Linked DNA regions of Homo sapiens: region 2 is linked to region 1. Evidence: fine-mapped expression QTL. A gene starts in region 1. The other region holds a variant in brackets. All regions are shown on one strand. Distances are between the middles of the regions.

The links.
Region 2: its variant is fine-mapped to the expression of LINC02289 in whole blood (INTERVAL, PIP 0.92).

Annotation. Positions count from the first base shown.
Region 1 is chr14:77,074,151-77,078,536 of GRCh38, reverse strand. LINC02289 (long intergenic non-protein coding RNA 2289) reads left to right here and starts at 2,346. Exons shown (of 3, transcript NR_110553.1): 1 at 2,346-2,432. RefSeq lists a silencer at 2,197-2,491.
Region 2 is chr14:77,132,648-77,137,033 of GRCh38, reverse strand. ZDHHC22 (zDHHC palmitoyltransferase 22) reads left to right here. Exons shown (of 3, transcript NM_174976.2): 3 at 3,086-4,386. The coding sequence ends at 3,351. Among named protein-coding and RNA genes, the nearest start is that of ZDHHC22, 7.0 kb to the left of the region's middle. RefSeq lists an enhancer at 2,747-3,246. The variant A/CA (reference allele first, on the strand shown) is at 1,844.

The DNA.
Region 1 (4,386 bases):
CAGTTTTGTCATGGAGTTGGGGGAGGCGCTACTGGCATCTTGTGGATAGAGGCCAGGGATATTCCAAAACATCCTACAATGTACAGGGCAGCCCCGACAACGAAGAATAATCCAGCCCAAACTGTCATTAGTGCTCTGTAGATGGTTTTGGCTGCTATAACAAAATACCTTAGACTGGGTAATTTATAAACAATGGAAATTTATCATTCACAGTTCTGGAGACTGGAAAGTCCAAGGTCAAGGCGCCAGCAGATTCAGTGTCTTGTGAGGGCTCATTCCTCATACATGGTGCCTCCTCTGTGTCCTTGCATGGCAGAAGGGGTCAACAAGCTCCTTCAGGCCTCTTTTATAAAAGTCTTAATCCCATTCATGAGGGGAGAGCCCTCAGGACCTAATCATGTGGCAGGCAGATTGTCTGAGGTCAGGAGTTCGAGACCAGCCTGGCCAACGTGGAGAAACTCTGTCTCTACTAAAAAAAAAAAAAAAAAATAGCCTGCTGTGGTAGTGCACACCTGTAGTCCCGACTACTCGGGAGGCTGAGGCAGGAGAATTGCTTGAACCTGGGAGGTGGAAGTTGCAATAAGCCGAGATCACACCATTGCACTCCAGCCTGGATGACAGAGCAAGGCTCTGTCTCAAAAAACAAATAAATAGGCCGGGCGCGGTGGCTCACGCCTGTAATCCCAGCACTCTGGGAGGCCGAGGTGGGTGGATCAAGATGTCAGGAGATGGAGACTATCCTGGCTAACACGGTGAAACCCCGCCTCTACTAAAAATACAAAAAATTAGCCAGGCGCCGTGGCAGGCACCTGTAGTCCCAGCTACTCGGGAGGCTGGGCAGGAGAATGGCGTGAACCCTGGAAGCGGAACTTGCAGTGAGCCGAGATCTTGCCACTGCACTCTGTCTGCCTGGGCGACAGAGCGAAACTCTGTCTCAAAACAAAAAAAAACAAAAACAAAATAAATAAACAAACAAATAAATAAATAAATAAAGAGTGTTAGGAGCCTTCTCTCCTGTAAGCTGTGAACAACTAAGCTTGTTTAGGTCCTGAAATGTCACTGTCATTGTCAGCATGATAAATGCTTTGTGCTGTAATAATACAGAGAAACAGGATGTCTATTCCCCAAAGCCTCTGTGATGGAGAAGGTGGGCTTTCCAGAGGCTCTGACTGTGGAATGTGTCTAGAATCCTCTGCATGTTTTCCAGGTTCACCTCCACACCCTCATCTCTGCTCAGCCGGGTCCTTGCTAGGAGCAGGAACCTGCCTGGTGGGTCTCTGATGGCAGCCCCATGCTCTGCAGACCCCGGACTCTCCGCAGCCCCAGCTCCTGCCTTGTCCTGTTGTCTTCCACCAAGGGGCACCCTTCTTTAAAAAGCTGGACTCTTTTTTTTTTTTTTTTTTTTTTGAGATAGGTTCTTGCTCTATCACCCAGGCTGGAGTGCAATAGTGCAATCACAGCTCACTGCTGCCTCCACTGCCTGGGCTTAAGTAATCCTCCTGCCTCAGTCTCCTGAGTAGCAGGGACCACAGACACACACCAACACTCCAAGCTAATTTTTAAAAATTATTTGTAGGGATGAGGTCTCGCTATGTTGCCCAGGCTGGTCTCAAGCTCCTGGCCTCAAGGGATCCTCCTGCCTTAGCCTCCCAAAGTGCTGGGATTACAGGAGTGAGCCACTATGCCCGGCCCAAGACTGACTCTTAAAAAAGGACAGAGCTAGTCCCAAGCTTGTGCAAGGACAGTGAGAGAGGGGAGACTCAGAAGTAGCCAATTTTTCCCCCAGTAATTAATAAGACATTTAAAGGACTTATCAGGTCACCACAGCTCCATCATCCCTGGGGAATTGTTTGGTTTAGCAGAACTGTTCCCACCCTGCCCCCCTTTGCTTTCTTCTTTCCTTGCCCAGACCCCTCCCCCAACTTAGTTGACGTTGCACAAAGCTTTCAAAAAAACAAGTTTTGTTCCCAGGTCAGCTATATCCTCCCAGGAAGTTTCCCCATCCCAGGGTGAAGTCAGGCCAACACAGGGTGAAGAGTTAGGAGGTCAGGGGCGGGGGAGGGGCGGGTGTTTTGCACGGGACAAGGAGTTCTTTTTTGTTGTTGTTATTCTTTGCGTCATTTCCAGAGAGACAGGAAGGAAAACATAGTAAACATTCTTCAATTCTGCACAAAAGCCGAGAAGGGATTTTCTTCAGGAACCTCCTTGTGGCTCTGCCATGGCGGGGAGGGTTGGGGGTAAGAAATATAAGACCCAATTCCCTGTGGAGGCGGGGATTCGGTGAAACCAATCCCTTGAATGTGGGGTGGAACCAACATGTAACTCAATTTGCTTTGGCTCTCACTGTGCATTTGAGCTAAAGCAAGGGAAGCATTTCCCCTTCCCCTGGCTGAAAGCTCAGCTGACCCCGAGGCTCTTCTGGTCATGCTTAGGTATGTACATTTTATGTCACGAAATCCAGTATCGACTTAGAGATTTAAAGCAGCCACCCAAAGATATTAAATGACTCTTGCATTTTTCTTCAAAGAGAAATCTTCTTCCTCCTGCCCTAGTTAAGGCCTTAGTTGGGGGCTGCCAGCTGCCAGGGACTGGGCATGGTGGCTTTTGTCTATTCTCTCCCGAATACCCCTCTCCCCACTTGCTGGTTGCTTTCAGAGTCTAAGTGGAGGTGGTGGGTGAGGATGCAGGGAAGCGGATGGGGAGCAGGGGAATAGGGCAGTTTTTACTTGACTGTATGATTGCCAGCTCTCTGGGTGTGGCAGATGGTGAAAGCTCTTTCTGGAGGGTTCCCTGTGTTCTTCAGAAGTTCCCATCTCAGCCAGGCTTGGTGGCTCACGCCTATAATCCCAGCACTTTGGAAGGCGGAGGCGGGCAGATCACTGGAGCCCAGGAGTACTAGACCAGCCCGAGCAACATGGCTAAACCTCATCTCTACCAAAAATACAAAAAGTATCTGGGGGTGGTGCTGCACGCCTGTAGTCCCAGCTACTTGGGAGGCTGAGGCAGGAGGATTGCTTGAACCCAGGAGGTAGAGGTTGCTGTGAGCCGAGTTTGGGCCACTGGACTCCAGCTTGGGCAACAGAGTGAGACCCTGTCTTAAAAAAAAAAAAAAAAAAAGTTCCCATCTCTAAGGTTTTCTCCTGAAGTTCCCTGTTCTGCACCTCCATTTCAGGTACAGCTATGACTCCATCTTCAACCCCTAGAAATCCAGCATCCTCTTCCAACTTCTTTCTGCTGACATCCCTTTGCCCTTCTCAGAGGCCCTACAGGACTTAAAATGACCCCCACCTTGGCCCTCTCTCCTGCCATGGTCCATCTGATCCACATGTGGCCCATGGGAAGAACTCACACAGCCCCTTCACTCATCCTAATGCAGTCCCTCCTGGCACAGTCCCATGGGGGCCCACAGCTCCAAGTGGCTGCATGGAAGCCCCCATCACTAGGCTTGAGTTGAAAGCAGTAGGGCCCCTAACTCCTTGGTGGGGTAGCTTACAGCATGGCTTTGCCCTTTCTGGAAGTTTCTATTTCCAAACTCTCCCCATTCTCCACACTCTATATTGTTGGTAGGCTGAGGGCCCTGAGTGCTATGCAACTGGTTCCCCATTATTTCCTTTGTAAATACTACATATGGGAGTCTGTCTCATGTTCAGTTTGCTATCTGATGATATTGTGGTAGCCTGCTTCCACAATGGCCCCTCATTGTCCCCATCTCCTGGTATTCACATCATTGTGTCTCCTCCCTCCGTGAACAGGGCCGACCCTTGTAGCCACTTGCTATTGCAGAGCTGATGGCATGCATCTTCTGAGGCTAGGTCATTGTTGTGTGTTTAATGATGTCCCCCAGAAGATATGTTGCAGCCCTAACCCCCAGGGCCTATAAATGTGACCTTTTCTGGAAATAGTCTTCGCAGTTGTAATCAAGGGTTGTTCTTGACTAGAGTGGGCCCTACATCCAATGACTGGTGTTCTCATAAGGAGAGAGAGACAAAGAGTAGACAGACACAAGGGAGAAGGCCGTGTGAAGATGGAGACAGAGATTGGAATGATACAGCCACAAGCCAAGAAACATCTGCGGCCGTCAGAAGTTGGAAGAGGCAAGGAATGATTTATTCTTTCCCACTCATTGTTTCACCAATGAGCACCTTCCATGTGCCACCGTTCTGACCCTGCTGACAATGTGGTTTCAGACTTCTGGCCCCCAGAACTGTGAAAGAGTAAATTTCTGTTAAGTTATCTTGCTTGTGGTACTTTGTTACAGCAGCCCTGTGGATCTAATATAGTCATAAGAGACATTGTGACCTCCTCCCTGCTCTCTTGAACCACTCATTCTGGGAGAAGTCAGCTGCCATGTCATGAAGCTACTCAGGGAGGTCCATGGAGAGGTCC
Region 2 (4,386 bases), 58 kb before region 1:
AGAAGCATGGGTTGTTTAATAGAAATTGAGTTCAAGATCAGCCTGGGCAAGATGGTGAGACTCCGTTGCTACAAAAATAAAAAATAAATAAATACACTAGCCAGGCATAGTGGCATGTGCCTGTTTTCCCAGCTACTCAGGAGGCTGAGGTGAGAGAATTGCTTGAGCCCAAGAGTTTGAGGCTGCAGTGAGCTATGATCATGCCACTGCACTCTATCCAGCCTGGGCTACAGAGCAAGACCCTGTCTCAAGAAAAAAAGAAAGAAAGAAATTGAGCTGTCCCCAACTGTGGTACAGATCTGAGTCAGATCTGTCACCAGAGCATGGATGGCTGTGAGTTTGGGCCTTGAGAGCTAAAAGTGGGAGGGGTCTTCTAGTGTGAAGGTGGCGGCCAACCACAGGCCCTCAGCTGATCCAGAGAGGGAGGCGGCTAGCTAGTTAGGTTTCAGAAGTTACCCTTTCTTTTGGCTTTGTGGGACCAGTACAGGTTGCTGTGTCACCTCTCTGAACCTTATTCTTATCTGGGAAATGGAGATGCCACCATCTGACCTGTATCTTGGCATTTGGGTAAGTACACCAGCATGATGGGTGCTACCAGAAAGTCCAGTAAGAGGGAAAGGGGACTAATGTTCATTGAGCACCTATTATGTACCACCCACTATGCATGTCACATTTCACCCATTCCTCTTGACAAGTCCATATTATCATGTCCATTTTTAAGGCTCAGAAACCAAAGACTCAGCAAGGTTAAGTTGCACCAACACCACACAGCTGGTACGATTCCAAACCAAGATTTGGAGTTGGGGCTTCTAGCCTCCAAAGCTCATACTCTTTCCACCCACCATACTGCCTCTTGGGGGCTGCCTCTCTGAAGCTGCTTCTCGAATGAGCCACTTTGGAAGGGAGGCAGCTACTTGTCCTTGGATGTATTAAAAAGTATGCTGGGTGATTATTTGTCAAAGGTGTTATAGATGCCTGTTGGGAGGAAGGGGCAGGGGAGATTGACTGATGTGTCCTTTTAGGCTCATTAGGAAAATTCTGTGATTTTTAAAAAGAGGCAGAACTATTATTAAATAGTTAAGAGGAGCTGAAGCAGCCAGGCTAGGTAACTTCAAACACTTTTAGAGAAAGCAGGTCCCCAGAATAGCCTTTTGTAGCTGCTGCATGGGGCCAAGAAAAGGCCGCAAGTTCTTTTTCTCATGCCTTGATTTAGTGCCAGGAAAAAACCCTGTGGGAAATGGCTTCCATCCACCCAGGCTTGTTCCTGGGGCAGTGTTGCAAGGCAGGCCCAAGCTTGACAGCTCTGATGTTCTCACATCCCAGCTTGAGGGCCACCTTTGCCTGTCAGCATTCCTCACGCCAAAGAGCACCATGGACCTGGGATCCTCCATCCCCCACATGGCTGCCCAAGCTAATCTGTGCCGACATGGAAGAAGTGGGTCAGGGGATGGCACAGCCCAATGTGAGCCCTGTCCCACTGCTGCCCCTGTGCCAGTGGAGGGGCTGCTGTAAATGGCAGCTGGGCCTATCTGTCCCCAGCTTTGTAAAAAAAAAAAAAAATAATACAGCTATCCAAGCTCCTAGGGATGAGGACAAGAGGAGGCTGCTAATGAGAGAATCTAAATCAGATCCACATCCTCCATGGCTGCTGAGTCCACCACTGCTCATACTGGACAAGTGTTGAAAGCCCAGTTGACAGGGCTTTGGAAATTGGAGGTTGGAGAGACTTGGGAAGAGGTGGGCTGGGGCAAGAGAAGGCTAGGGAAAGGGCAAAATATGGTTGAGATTTTCAAGGGCAGAATAGGTTGTAAGGTGGAGTCCTTAGAGGAGGTGCCCCCCCCCC[A/CA]CCAGAGGAGGTGATAGGGTTGCCCTACAGGGAACCAAAGGCTAAGGAATACTTTCGAATTAACTCCAGGGTCCAGTGCCCTGGCTGCTGGGTAGGTCAAGGTAAGTGTCTTTGCCACAGCTGCCAAAGTTGCAGCCCAGCCAGGACTCTAAGCCCTGAAAAGGAGAAGGAAAAAGCTTGATAGTTTCAGGAGTTGAACTCATTTTGGATGTAGTCTCCTGCTCTGTAAAATGACCCTCTGCTGGGAGCACCGCTCTGAGTGTGAACCGGAATGCTGACCACTCTGTACATCATTTTCTTGAAACATGCAGCTGTATGAAATCGTTAGTGTTATTATACCCATTGTACAGATGAACGAGCTGCAACTGAGAGGTTGGGACACTTGTGCCAGTCCACACAGCTGGGAGATTCAAACCTAGCATGGACCAGCCACCCAAACTCTGAGGAAGAGTGTGGGAGCTCTTACTCAGTGGTTATTTCAAACCAGTAATAGGAAGTGCTTGGTTTAGAGGGATTCTGGGGAGATCCTGCCCCACGACACAGGGCTGATGACCTTGGGGGCCTCTTCTAGCAAGCTTTGATTGACAGAACCAGCTCTGGTGGAATGCGGTGGTGGCCACACTGTCCTCTTGTTAACATTAATGACTGAATTATTCTCTACGTTGGTGTTCTGGGCTGCTCTTCAGACTAAGCTCGTGACTTATTCTTCCCAGATCTCCATCATGCTGTCATTTTCCTGAGTCCTCTCAACCAGCGTTCCCAGAACAGTAGGGAGAAGGTGCTGTGGACTAGACAGCTGCCCAGGCACCTGCTCCCTCTTTAGGGTCCCCAGCTCACCCCTCTCTCCTCCTGAGCAAAACCCCTTCACCCTGCTTCTAGCCCAAAAGGAGAAAGCAGAGAGAGACAGGCATCTCCTACTCTACAGAAATGTTATCAGCGGCCAGGTGCTGCCCCAGGAGCTGAGGGCTGTCCTTGCTAAGCTCATCAAACTTAGCTCTCTTCTCTGCCATGTCTCCAGTCTTCCCCTCTTGCCTCAGGTGCCATCCGCGCCAAGAAAAAGTTAGGGCAGCTGGTTCTTCCTTCCTCTCCCTCACTGCAGCTGCAGCGCTGAGGTTGCTACAAAATGTAGCGTCAATCTCATTAATCTCCCTCCCTCCCGGTGGAAAGCCTGCCTAGATCGCAGTTATGCCGGTGGCCTGGGTGTAAAGCGGCTCTGGTGTTTCCCCTCCCCGTGCCCTGCAGGAGCTGTCCTGGGTTCTGAAATGTTCGTCATCCTCATGCTCTACCTCTGGTTCGCCATCGGCCTGGCCTGCGCCGGCTTCTGCTGCCACCAGCTGCTGTTGATCCTCCGCGGGCAGACCCGCCACCAGGTGCGGAAGGGGGTGGCAGTGAGGGCCCGGCCCTGGCGCAAGAACTTACAAGAGGTCTTCGGAAAGAGGTGGCTGCTGGGCCTGCTGGTCCCCATGTTCAATGTCGGAAGTGAGAGCTCCAAGCAGCAGGATAAGTAGTAGACACTCCCGTCATTTATCTCTCTGTCTCTGTCTTGACTCCTCCTGAGCATAAAACCATGGCAGCCTTGTCTCCACCCATGACTCACTACAACCTTGTGCTGGTAAGGTCCTAGCATCTTCCCCTCACCTTCCACCCATGAGAACAGCGTGAGCTGGTGGATCATGACAAGGAGGAAAAATGTCCCCCCAGGCATTTCTAGGCTCCTCACGAGCCAGCCAGGTGGCTGCTAGCTGTTAGGCTGCCTCTGCTTTCTTTCCGTCCCCTTGGGATCCCTGCTTTCCCCCTCTTCCTGGCTCATCCATTCTCCACCGTGTCTCATTCATCACTGCTGTCTGCTAGAGCCCTTCCTCTCAGCCCCCATGTTGGGAGAGGGGAGTGGATTCTTGCTGCTGGTATGAGACTCCCTGGGACCTAGAGGCTGGCAAATGTTTAAAATCACCACGTGTAAGAGGCAGCCAAGTCAGCTCTGCCAACTGCTAGGGGAGTTGGGAAAGAGTGGGTGTGTGTCCGCATCCCCTCTGTAGGAAAAAGAACTTAGTAGCTTGCTGCTCCCTCACCACCCCCCACCAGGTTCAAGACCCTTTTTCTGGGAGACAGCAATCAATGGCCTGCTTTTTCCAAATGTTATTCCCTGTCCACCCTGCCCCATCTGGCCGGCCCAGCCCAGTCCAGGACCTGGCTGGATGCTTCCTGTCCCTGGAACTCTTCCAGCCTTTCTACTTGATCTCCAGCCCCCAGGTCTTTGCCAGATGATGGGAAGGCAAGGAAGAAGGGACAGGGAAAGATAATTACTGATAAATGAAGGGGATATTCGACTGTATAACCATATGGAAGTGTGTGTGTGTGTGTGTGTGTGTGTGTGAGAGAGAGAGAGAGAGAGATGGGTGGTGGTGAGAAGTGTTGTTAGAAACATATAGGAATAATGCCTAGGGGAAAGGGAGAAGTGAGAGGGACAATTGGGTTCATTTATGCCCTATACAAAGGGCATTCCAGCAGCTGAAACTCTTCAATGTTTGAATGGCTGCCTGTGA